Linked DNA regions of Homo sapiens. The protein of the gene in region 2 purifies or fractionates together with the protein of the main gene of each other region. This does not show direct contact. Each region holds a gene or a part of one and is shown on either strand. Other genes may lie near its edges.

Region 1 (3,638 bases), on a different chromosome or scaffold from region 2:
CACGCTCAGCTCATTTTGTATTTTCGATAGAGACGGGGTTTCTCCATGTTGGTCCGGCTGGTCTCAAACTCCCGACCTCAGGTGATCCGCCCGCCTCGGCCTCCCAGCGTGCTGGGATTAGAGGCGTGAGCCACCGCGCCCGGCCTCTTGTACAAGTTTTTACACCACATGAAAGGCTACCCCGTAGCCGCTATTCCCTAAGCCATGCGGCCTTTCGGATCTCTGGAAACACCCACATCTGCGGCCGTTCCTCGGCTTGGCGGTGCTCCCCACCTCTAAGGCACCTGCAGGCTTCGCTGCCGGTCACCATTACCCCCCGTCACCCCACCCCATGCATGCTGCGACACCCCTGACATCAGCACGTCGCACGAGAACAGGCTTCAAGACACGGGGTCAAACCGGACGACTGACAGGGAGGAAGGCCTCCATGTTAGAAAAGCTGCCAATTCAGACAGCCCTTAAGAACCGCCCCTCCCCAGGCGAGAAGGAAAACACCGTGCTAAGAAAGATGCCAGCTCTTTATTACCAGGGAAGCTGTGTGCACGCGCGTGGAGCGCGCTCCTTGGAGCTGACCGGGCCCTTACCTTCTCCTGCTTGTCAGAGGTGAGTCCTGGTACCCAGCACGGTGGCCTCCGGGAGGCTTTGATAGGTCAGCCTTTGCTGCCTCCCAGCTCAGGGCTCCTCCAAGGAACCTGCGGGGCCCCATGTGCCCACAGCCCGAGGAGGGAAGCACCGACCGCCCTCCTCGTGGCACGCTGCACTCCAGCGCTGGGCACTTCACCTGCTTCCTGGCTTGCGGTGGTCAGGCTCGATACTGACTCCACTGATCGGCACATTGAGTTCCAAAAGAATGCAAACCGCGTGGGTGCTGTGGCGACATTGTTTGCACCGTTTATACAACCAGACAGCTTTTTAGACTAAATTCGTGTCCAAACTAACACGCACGGGAACGGGCTCCAGCTGCAGCTCCCTGGGTCTGTCAGGCCGGGGAGCGGTTCTACCGGAAGAGCCGGTACGTCCTGGGCAGGCGCCCGTCCTTACTCGACAGGGCGGTCTGGATGTGCTCATACGTGGGCAGGTCAGTCAGGTCACCCAGGGCGGCCACTGCCGGCTTCCCTCGGAGCATCTTAGAAGCGACTCTCTTCACATCTTCCGGCTTCACGTTGCCTAGTGCAGAGGGCAAACGCGTGTCACACGAGCGCGCCACGGCCCCCACGCTGAGGCTGCATCAGTAAACACACGGAGGGGGCGGCTGGTCTGTACCACTCACTCACGCTGTGCTGCTGATGGGGGCACCTGGGCCCAAAGGCAGCCACTGGGTGTAGCCAAGGGTGAGTCCACAAGTGACAGACGTTGAGTTCTCAGTAAATGGGGACATGGCAATGACTTAAAAATATAGGACAAAGCCACCCAAGAAGAGTTACACTTACAGAAGAGCGAGCTCCGTGTCTGATGAACTCACTTTAGGACGGCCTGCAGAAAAAACCCCCAGCCCCCGAGGGCCGCATGGACAGAAGGGTGGGGTGAGAGAAGGCCAAAGGGCTGCACCCAGGAACCCCAGGACAGGAGTGATAGGGTCCAGGTGGGTCTGTTTTCTACAGAAAACGAGGCCCGAGAGAGGCTGGACACTCGCTTGAGGATTTAAGCGGGGGCTCCTGAGGGAAGGACGAGGGCCCACACGGGACAGGGCAAGTGCCCGGGACTCCAGGCCTGGAAAGGAGATGCCCACAGGTGACACCATAAGCCCGAGCCACCCCAACGTAATAGGCAGCCTTGCCAGGTTTTAAGCCTGTCCCCCAGAAGAGTCCGATGCACATACAACTTGGCAGTTTCAGGAAATTCAGACCTCCTAAGGTCACTCATGGGGGCCCCGGAAACCTGGGGCTGAGACTCCTGCCCGAGAGCCAGCAACGGTACAGCGGCATTCCGAGCCACTGCTACTCCACGTACAATGTAGCAGTCCTCTACTGAGCCCTTCTCGCCTACTAACTTGAGTGCTCTTTAACAACTCTGGGCAGTAGTGACAGCCCCTCCCAGGGGTGCAGAGGGTGGGGTCACCTGCCAAGGAGGCAGCAGGTGCATGGTGGGGCCGGGAAGTGAGACCAGGTCTGCGACCCCACGACCCTGCCCTTGGCCGCCCCTGCTGAGGACAACTGGTGAAGGCCCCAGATTCTGGGTGTGATGGACATACCACAGGCCCACCACGGCCTGCGGGAGGGCGAGACGGCCTCCTCTGAGCCTGGCCGAGGCCTGCGGCAGCCCCTCACTACCCCTGCGGTACTCACGGATGAGCGTGCACAGCTCGTGCGGCAGCTTTCTGGAGCGAGTGGCCAGCACCTGCCTCCCCACATCCTCGAAGATCACAGGCCTGGATTCCAGGTTCATCATGAGCATTGATGTCAGCTGCGTCTTGGCTCGTTCCAGCTCCACCTGGGGCCAGGGTCCAGTCAGGTGAGCACACACCCGCCCCGTGCCACCTTCCACCCCCCACTCGAGCAATGGCAAAACGCCATCTCTGTGCCCAAAGCTGAACATAAGAAAGGGAAGGGCAGCCGGGCGCAGTGGCTCCCGCCTGTAATCCCAGCTCTTTGGGAGGCTGAGGCAGGCGGATCACGAGGTCAGGAGATTGAGACCATCCTGGCTAACAGAGTGAAACCCCTTCTCTACTAAAAATACAAAAAGAAATTAGCTGGGCGTGGTGGCGGGCGCCTGTAGTCCCAGCTGCTCAGGAAGCTGAGGCGGGAGAATGGCATGAACCCGGGAGGCGGAGCTTGCAGTGAGCCCAGATCGCACCACTGCACTCCAGCCTGGGCGACAGAGCAAGACTCTGTCTCAAAAAAAAAAAAAAAAAAAAAAACGGGAACCCAGGCCCAAGTCACAGGCAACCCTGCTGGTCTCCCCTTCAGGTTTTTTAGGGAAGGGCTGTGCTACGTGTTACCCGGCTTCTACCACACTTGAAATACAGGAGCAATGTGCCTCCCTTGAGTTCTTCATTGTCTGTGTGACATGCAGCGGGAGAAGGTAAAATAGTTAACTCCCAAATGCCAGGGCCCCAAAGTGGCCACACGGCAAAATCGGGGAAAACAAATGAAACACAGGTTCTGGGGCTTCCCCAGACGCCTCCGGCGCAGGGCCCAGGCAGCTGGTTTTAGCAAAGTCCCTGGGAGGTTCTGAGGGAGGCAGTGCGGGTCCTAGGCTGCCTTCAGACTGTCTCAGGGCACAGGCAGGGGTGCTGTGAGAAGGACATGCAGATCTAGGAGCCAGCATACTGAAAAACAAACACCAAAAACTGATGGGCCGCAGAGATGCTACACTTTTTTTTTTTTTTCTTAAATAGACACAGGGTCTTGCTATGTTGCCCAGGTCAGTCTTGAACTCCTGGGCTCAAGTGATCCTCCCACCTTGGTCTCCCAAAGTGCTGGGAAAACAGGCATAAGCCACCGGACCTGGCCTCTATACCATTTCTTTTAAGTAAAACAATTCTTAGGTCTTTTTGCAACTTTAGGCAAATACCTAAATACTTCATATTTATTTCAAGTTGACTTCACGTTAGTGGAGGACTGTTTTTCTAGCAGTGCACTAGTGGAACTGAAGCGTATTAATTTAACCACAACTTTATTTCTTGAATGCTTTTTTTC
Region 2 (7,230 bases):
AGACAGCAGGTCCTGCAGCACTTGCCTTGCCTCCTGAGCGTGAGTGCCTTCTTAAATTCTACATGTAGGAACTCACTCACTTTACCCTAATCCCAGCCTTGAAACGAAGGTACCATAACTCCCATTTTCTAAAAGAAAATCAAACCCAAGCAAACTGAATCACTGACTAAAAGTGTTATTGGGCATCTGTGAGATGCTGAAGACTGAGCAACAAATAGCAAATAAGACATTATACCTGACAACATGCATACAGTTTCCTGGAGGACGTAGGCAAACAGGCAATTACAACCTAATGTTGTGACAGGGTAGAGAAAAGCACTGGATCTGGAGTCAGACTGCCTGGATGAGAAGCATAGCTCCACCACTTCCATGTGACCTTGGCCAAGGGGATAATAATGAAATAATGATCCCTACCTCACAGTACTGTGAAAGATGAAATTAGTTATTATATATGAAGCATTTAGAACACTGGTGTGGCATGTAGGTATCTAAGTATTTATTATTATGATGGTGATGATGATGCAGTATAGGTAAGCACAGAGAAAGTGTGTGTGTATACATATCTACATCTCTAGAGGAAGGGAATCGCGTGGGAAGGCTTCCTGGAAGAAGCCTACTCTGAGCTGAATGCTCAAAGTTAACCTGCTGAAGTCAATATCCTCATATGTCAAATAATGTCTATCTTACAACATCATTGTGAGAATTGAGAGACCAAATATACAGACAATGACTAGTCCTTATATAAAACAGAACTCTGACCCACAACCTGCAGCATCCTGTCCAGGAACCCAAACCATTATTTAGAATAACCAGGCCAGGAGGCCAGCCGGCTATAAGCCAGACTTGAAGGAAATCAGACTGCTATCTCTAGTGACAGTCCAGGAAGCAAAACAATAACCCCTTTAACAATCAGCCCAAAATGGCTAGGACTTTTTTTTCTTTCTTTTTTTTTTTTTTTGAGATGAAGTCTCACTCTGTTGTCTGGGCTGGAGTGCAGTGGCATGAACTCAGCTCACTGCAACCTTTGCCTCCCAGGTTCAAGTGATTCTCCTGCCTCAGCCTTCCCAGTAGGTGGGATTACAGGCACGTGCCATGATGCCTGGCTAATTTTTTGTATTTTTAGTACAGACGGGGTTTCACCATGTTAGCCAGCATGGTCTTGATTTCCTGACCTCGTGATCTGCCCACCTCGGCCTCCCAAAGCACTGGGATTACAGGCGTGAGTCACTGCGCCCAGCTGCAAAATGGTTAGGATTTGATTACTAACTGACAGCTTCCGTAATTTCTGTCCTTGATTCCAACTTAGGACAACCAGAGAAAACCAAATACACACCCCTAACCCATACCATAGAATGTTGTGCTTCTAGTTAGCTCACCTACAGCTTCCCTGTGCCAACAGCCTCCAATCAGGCCATACCTGAAGCCATTCCTTTTTTCCACTATAGTTTTCCCACTCCTCTCTTTGACTCGAGTCCCTACTCAAATGCAAGTGACAGTGGCTGACTCTCTTGCTATAACAAGCCCTGAAAAACATAGCCTTTGCTTGTTCTCATTTGGTTGGTCTCCATTTACATCCTCAGAATTTAATTTGATAAAGTACATAAAATATCTAGTACAAGGCATAACTTTTTCTAAGGACCTTTTGAATCTTTAAAGGAAATATTAACACAAAGACTGAGCTGTTTTCAACTAAAACTTACACTTTTATCTGAATCAAAAGGCCTGCCTGACAACCTGGTTTTAAACGCAGTCCTCAATGGTTTCAAAAGTGGCAGGTCAGACCTGAAAGCCAGCCTCCCTCCCAAACGGTTTTGGGCTTCACTGTATTAGTAGAAACAGTAGAAGTGGTTTGCTACTTACCGTTCTATATTTTGAAAACAGACCAAATTGAGGGATCAGAGAGGCTGTAAGAAGAAAGCATAGACATTTTACAGTATAGGATCAAGGTAAGGTATTGTTCATGAAGTTTTTTTTTTTTTTAAATGAAGTCTTGCTATGTTGCCCAGGCTGGTCTTGACCTCCCGGGCTTAAGCGATCTTCCTGCCTAGGCCTCCCAAAGTGCTGGAATTTGAGGCATTAGCCACCACATCCAGCTTCATAAGGATGTTTTAAAATCCAGTTTGGGATTTATCCAGGCCACATCTTCTATTTTCCCCTCTAATGCCTACCTTCTTTAAACTGTCCCCATCCCACTTCCCCCAGAAAGGATATTCAGTTTTTTATGGCACCTCTCCCCAAAAGCACATAGAAATAACATTTGGTTCTGTTCCCATTAGGGTTGGTTGAGAAAGGACTTTGAAGCTATGGAATAAAAGTCGCGCTAGCGCACTGCAGCTTCAATTCCTGGTCTCAAGCGAGCCTCCCGCCTCAACCTCCGGAGTAACTGGGACTACCGGCCCAAGCCACTACACCTGGCCAAGGAAGTAACCCTTAATTAATAGTTCATGATGTTATTTTCCTTTACAACTCGGGGTAACAAATACAAAATTTAATATAAGATGTGAGCATTTTAACTCCATTTTAAGAGAGGTGTCCAGTGTGGTTGGACTAAAGCCCCTTTCTCGTAAGCATCCACAATTCCTCATTCCTGCACATCTCCTCCCTTGGGACCATACATAAAAACTCAACTCCTCATCTTGGGCACCTGAAAATCTACTTTAACAGAGAAAGCGCTCTAGATGGCAGGTGTCCTTAGAGCTGGGAGCGAAGCCCAAGCAAGAACTAAAGAGGGTGGCTGACTCCACAAAGCCACCCCCACAACCCCCAGTTCGCGTTCCTCCACCTGGCAGGTCCTCTGGGGAACCGCCAGTAACGGGCGCGCGGGTACCGTCGCCGAGGCCGCCCGGAGCAGGGCAGGGTCCGCCGCCGGTCTGACTCCCAAACCCGCTTTTCTCCGGAGGTCCCCGCTCGCCAGGACCGCTCCGAGCGCTACCTGCGAAGGTAACTGCCAGGAGCAGCAGCGCCAAGCGCAGCACCGACAGCGCCATCCTCCTCCCGCGCCGGCTGTCTTGCCCCTGCGGTCTGTTACCTGCGCCACTCGCAGGGAGCGCTCGTGCGACGGGGCGCGGGGAGGGCGGGGGAAGGGGCGGGGCGAGAATGGGAGGAAAAGCAGCGGTAGGTGGCGAGGGAAGAGGGGCGGCGGGAAGAGGAGCGGCGGGAAGAGGAGCCGTGAAGGGTCGGGGGAGAACCGGAAAGGGCTGGGAAGGAGAAAGGTAGAAGGACGGGGGAGGGGGCCATGGGGAAGGAGGGGCGAGGGAGATAGAGGAAGGGGCAGTTGTTCCCCAACACCTTCCCCTCCCCCCAAGGAGACGAAGGGGAAGACCTCTCCCTCCGACATACAAGAACCTGTGACAGTCCTAGGGGGACCCTTGTGGAGCTCTTGGGAGCTCTGTCAATCAACACCTATTTCTTAAGCATGTACTAAGTCCCAGATAGTGTTTCGTTGCTGAAGACACAGCCCTGACCTCGACAAAGGAGGTCCTTGCTCTCAGGAAGCGTTCTGCCTTTCCCTCTTTTAATATATTTTTTAACTATTTGAGTTGACACATAATGATTGTACATATTTATGGGGGTACATAGTGATATTTGGATACATACAATGTGTAGTGATCAAAATAGGATAATTAGCATATTCATCACCTCAAACATTTATCATTACTTTGTGTTGAGAACATTCAAAATCCTCTCATCTAGCTACTTGAAAATACATAATAAATTATTATTATTATTTAAATTTCAGACAGGGTCTCGCTCTTTTACCCAGGCTGGAGTGCAGTGGCACGATCTCAGCTCACTGCAACCTCCACCTCCCAGGTTCCAGTGATCCTCCCACCTCAGCCTCCCTCCCAAGTAGCTGGGACCACAGATATATGCCACCATGCCAAGCTAATTTTTGCATTTTTTGTAGAGAGGGGTTCTCACCATGTTGCCCAGGCTACTCTCAAACTCCTGGGCTCAAGCAATCCGCCCACCTTGGCCTCCCAAAGTGCTGGGATTACAGGCTTGAGCCACCGTGCTCGACCTTTATAATATATTATTGTTAATTGTCGGCACCCTACAATGCTATGAAACACTAGCACTTATCCTTTCTACCTAGCTGTAATTTTGTATACTTTAACCAACCTCTCCCTATCCCCCTATCCTTCCCAGCCTCTAGTAACTACTGTTCTACTCATTACTTCTGTGAGAAATAATTTTTGCCAAAGAGGCTGAGCAAGTTAGTGCATTAAGGCCAGGCGTGGTGGCTCACGCCTCTAATCCCAGCACTTTGGGAGGCTGAGCCTGGTGGATCACTTGAGCTCAAGAGTTTGAGAGGAGCCTGGGCAACAGGGCAAAACCCCGTCTCTAAAAAAAGTACAAAAATTAGCCAGGTGTGGCCATTGAGCTGAGATTGAGCTACTGCGCTCCAGCCTCAGTGGCAAAATGAGACCATGTCAAAAAAATTTGGCCAGGCACGGTGGTTCATGCCCGTAATCCCAGCACTTTGCGAGGCTGAGGCAAGTAGATCACTTGAGGCCAGGAGTTTGAGACCAGCCTGGCCAACATGGCAAGACCCCATCTCTACTAAAAATACAAAAATTAGCTGTGCATGGTGGTGCGCACCTGTAGTCCCAGCTACCTGGGAGGCTGAGGCATGAGAATTGCTTAAACCCAAGAGGCAGAGGTTGCAGTGAGCCGAGATGGTGCCACTGCACTCCAGCCTGGGCGACAGAGTAAGACTCTGTCAAAAAAAAAAAAAAGTGCATTAGCAGATCCACTTTTTTTTTTTTCTGCTTCTTATGCCTGTGTGTCAAATGATTCTGTGACATGTTGCCTTATCAGTAAGGGTCCAGTCTGGAAAACACAAGGTTTACTAGGTATTTCACCAGAGATAATTTAGTATAAGGAATTGGCTAATCCAGTAGGGATAACTGAAAAAAGCAGAAAGGGAAAACGAGGTAACACAGAGATAAAGCCTTTAGGAAGTAGGCATCATGCCTCGATCTAGGGGAACAAACGGATTAGGTTGGGATTCTCAGAACTAGAAATTTGGAGGAGAGGTCCTGGAAAGCTGGGACTCAGACCCATGGGAAGGGGGTGTTGCTTGGATATGCAGGTGGCTCTAAGAGTGTGTGGAAAAGCTGAAGACTGGAGCCAGGTGCAGTGGCTCACACCTGTAATCCCAGCACTTTGGGAGGTTGAGGTGGGTGGGTCACTTGAGGTCGGGAGTTCGAGACCAGCCTGGCCAACATGGTGAAACCTTGTCTCTACTAAAAAATATAAAACTTAGCTGGACATGGTGCCATACTCCTGTAATCCCAGGTTCATGAGAATCTCTTGAACCTAGGAGGTGGAGGTTGTGGTGAGCGAAGCACACCACTGCACTCCAGCCTGGGCAACAGAGTGAAACTCTGTCTCAAAAAAAAAAAAAAAAATGCTGGAGACTGGAGCCAGCTGATTCTATCAGAGTGATGAAGAGTCATTGCTGTGGCACTGCTGAAAGAAACAGCCAGCAGGCAGGAGCCAGTCCCTTCTCCCTCCTCCTGCCTTCCGGTGTCCCCCTGACAGACCCTATGGGCATAACCTTCTGGAAGCCAGCTGAAAAAGCAGAAATGAGGTCTGCTGAGACCTGGCACCACATAGCAGAGTGTAGAAGGGGGTTGTAGAGCTGATGGAGAATCATCTTATGACTGGCATGTTCCCATGCCCACCCTTGACCTTAGCAACCTCAAAGGCTGGAACAAGAAGACACTGTGCAGTTTTTAACTCCACTTGGCACCACACATGGCTGAGTTCTGGCTGGAATCCTGTCTGAGGCCAAGGGGTAAATTTGAAATGAGTGTTAGTACTTCTCTAAGTCACATCACATTCAGTTCTTTGAATAACAGTCATGAAATGGTCATGGGTCATTTTGCTGAAGATTCTTATCAAGGATTGATAAAATATAATTTATATATAAAGCTTTTCTCAACTGTGCTGGATGTCTGTTACCAAATGACATGTGCACTTGCTTACAAACACCTTTGATGCTCTGGGAACACAAATCTGACCCAGACTCAGGGGCAATGCTCAGAGGTGTGTGAGTAGGAATTTCAGCTTCAAAAGAAAAGCCATTTACCCCTCAAGATAGATTTTTTATAAATTTATGTGTGTGGATACAGCTGCCTTTAGGTTATTTTGTTTCAAAGAGTTGACACTGACTGGCAGGGTGGCTCATGCCTGTAATCCCAGCACTTTGGGAGGCAGAGGCGGGCAGATTGTTTGAGCCCAGGAGTTGGAGACCAACCTGGGCAACATGACAAAACCCTGTCTCTAAAAAAATACAAAAATTAGCCTGGTGTGGTGGCGCGCACCTGTAGTCCCAGCTACTTAGGAGGCTGAGGTGGGAGGATCACCTGAGCCTGGGAGGTGGAGGCTGCAGTGAGCCATGATCACACCACTGCATTTCAGCCTGGGTGACAGAGCGAGACTCCGTCTCAAAAAAAAAAAAAAAATGTTGATAATTATACCTTAGAAATATTTTCTATCATGGTGCTTTTCACATGTTGTCTCAGCATTTGTGAGCCAAGAACAAGGGTCAAAAAACATTTTCTGTAAAGGGCCAGATAGTAAATACCATTGACTTCTTGTCACAACTAAACTCTGCCATTGCAGTGCAAAAGGAGACATAGACTATAACTCAATGAATGGGCATAACTGTATTCTTTTTTTTTTTTTTTTTGAGAGAAGATCTTGCTGTGTCACCCAGGCTGGAGTACAGTGGCGCAATCTCAGCTCACTGCAGCCTCAACCTCCTGGGCTCAAGCGATCCTCCCACCTCAGCCCCACAAGTAGCTAGGAATACAAGCATCCGCCACCACACCCAGCTAATATTCTTGTATTTTTTGTAGAGGTAGGTGATATGGTTTGGCTGTGTCCCCACTTAAATCTCAACTTGAATTCTATCTCCCGGATTTCCCAAGTGTTGCGGGAGGGACCCAGGGGGATAATTGAATCATGGGGGCCAGTCTTTCCCATGCCATTCTCATGATAGTGAATAAGTCCAGGAGATCTGATGGGTTTATCAGGAGTTTCCATTTTTGCTTCCTCCTCATTTTTTCTCTTGCTCCTGCCATGTAAGAAGGGCCTTTCACCTCCCACCATGATTGTGAGGCCTCCCCAGCCATGTGGAACTGTAAGTCCAATTAAACCCTTTTTTCTTCCCAGTCTCATGTATGTCTTTATCAGCAGCATGAAAATGGACTAATACAG

Evidence for each region. The genes of interacting proteins can lie anywhere in the genome.
Region 1: the proteins of SPINK2 (region 2) and PMPCA purify together in Homo sapiens (affinity purification with mass spectrometry; 2 studies listed by BioGRID and IntAct, with this or other methods). This does not show direct contact.

The regions. Positions count from the first base shown.
Region 1 is NC_000009.12:136,420,624-136,424,261, reverse strand, and holds the end of PMPCA (mitochondrial-processing peptidase subunit alpha isoform 1 precursor), read right to left. Parts: intron 2,431-3,638; coding exon 2,286-2,430; coding exon of another isoform or gene 2,002-2,285; exon of another isoform or gene 1,178-2,001; intron 1,168-1,177; coding exon 998-1,167; 3' UTR 501-997; downstream 1-500. UniProt on the Homo sapiens protein: Substrate recognition and binding subunit of the essential mitochondrial processing protease (MPP), which cleaves the mitochondrial sequence off newly imported precursors proteins.
Region 2 is NC_000004.12:56,818,676-56,825,905, forward strand, and holds the start of SPINK2 (serine protease inhibitor Kazal-type 2 isoform 1 precursor), read right to left. Parts: upstream 3,027-7,230; 5' UTR 2,988-3,026; coding exon 2,783-2,987; exon of another isoform or gene 2,645-2,782; intron 1,905-2,644; coding exon 1,861-1,904; intron 1-1,860. UniProt on the Homo sapiens protein: As a strong inhibitor of acrosin, it is required for normal spermiogenesis. It probably hinders premature activation of proacrosin and other proteases, thus preventing the cascade of events leading to spermiogenesis defects.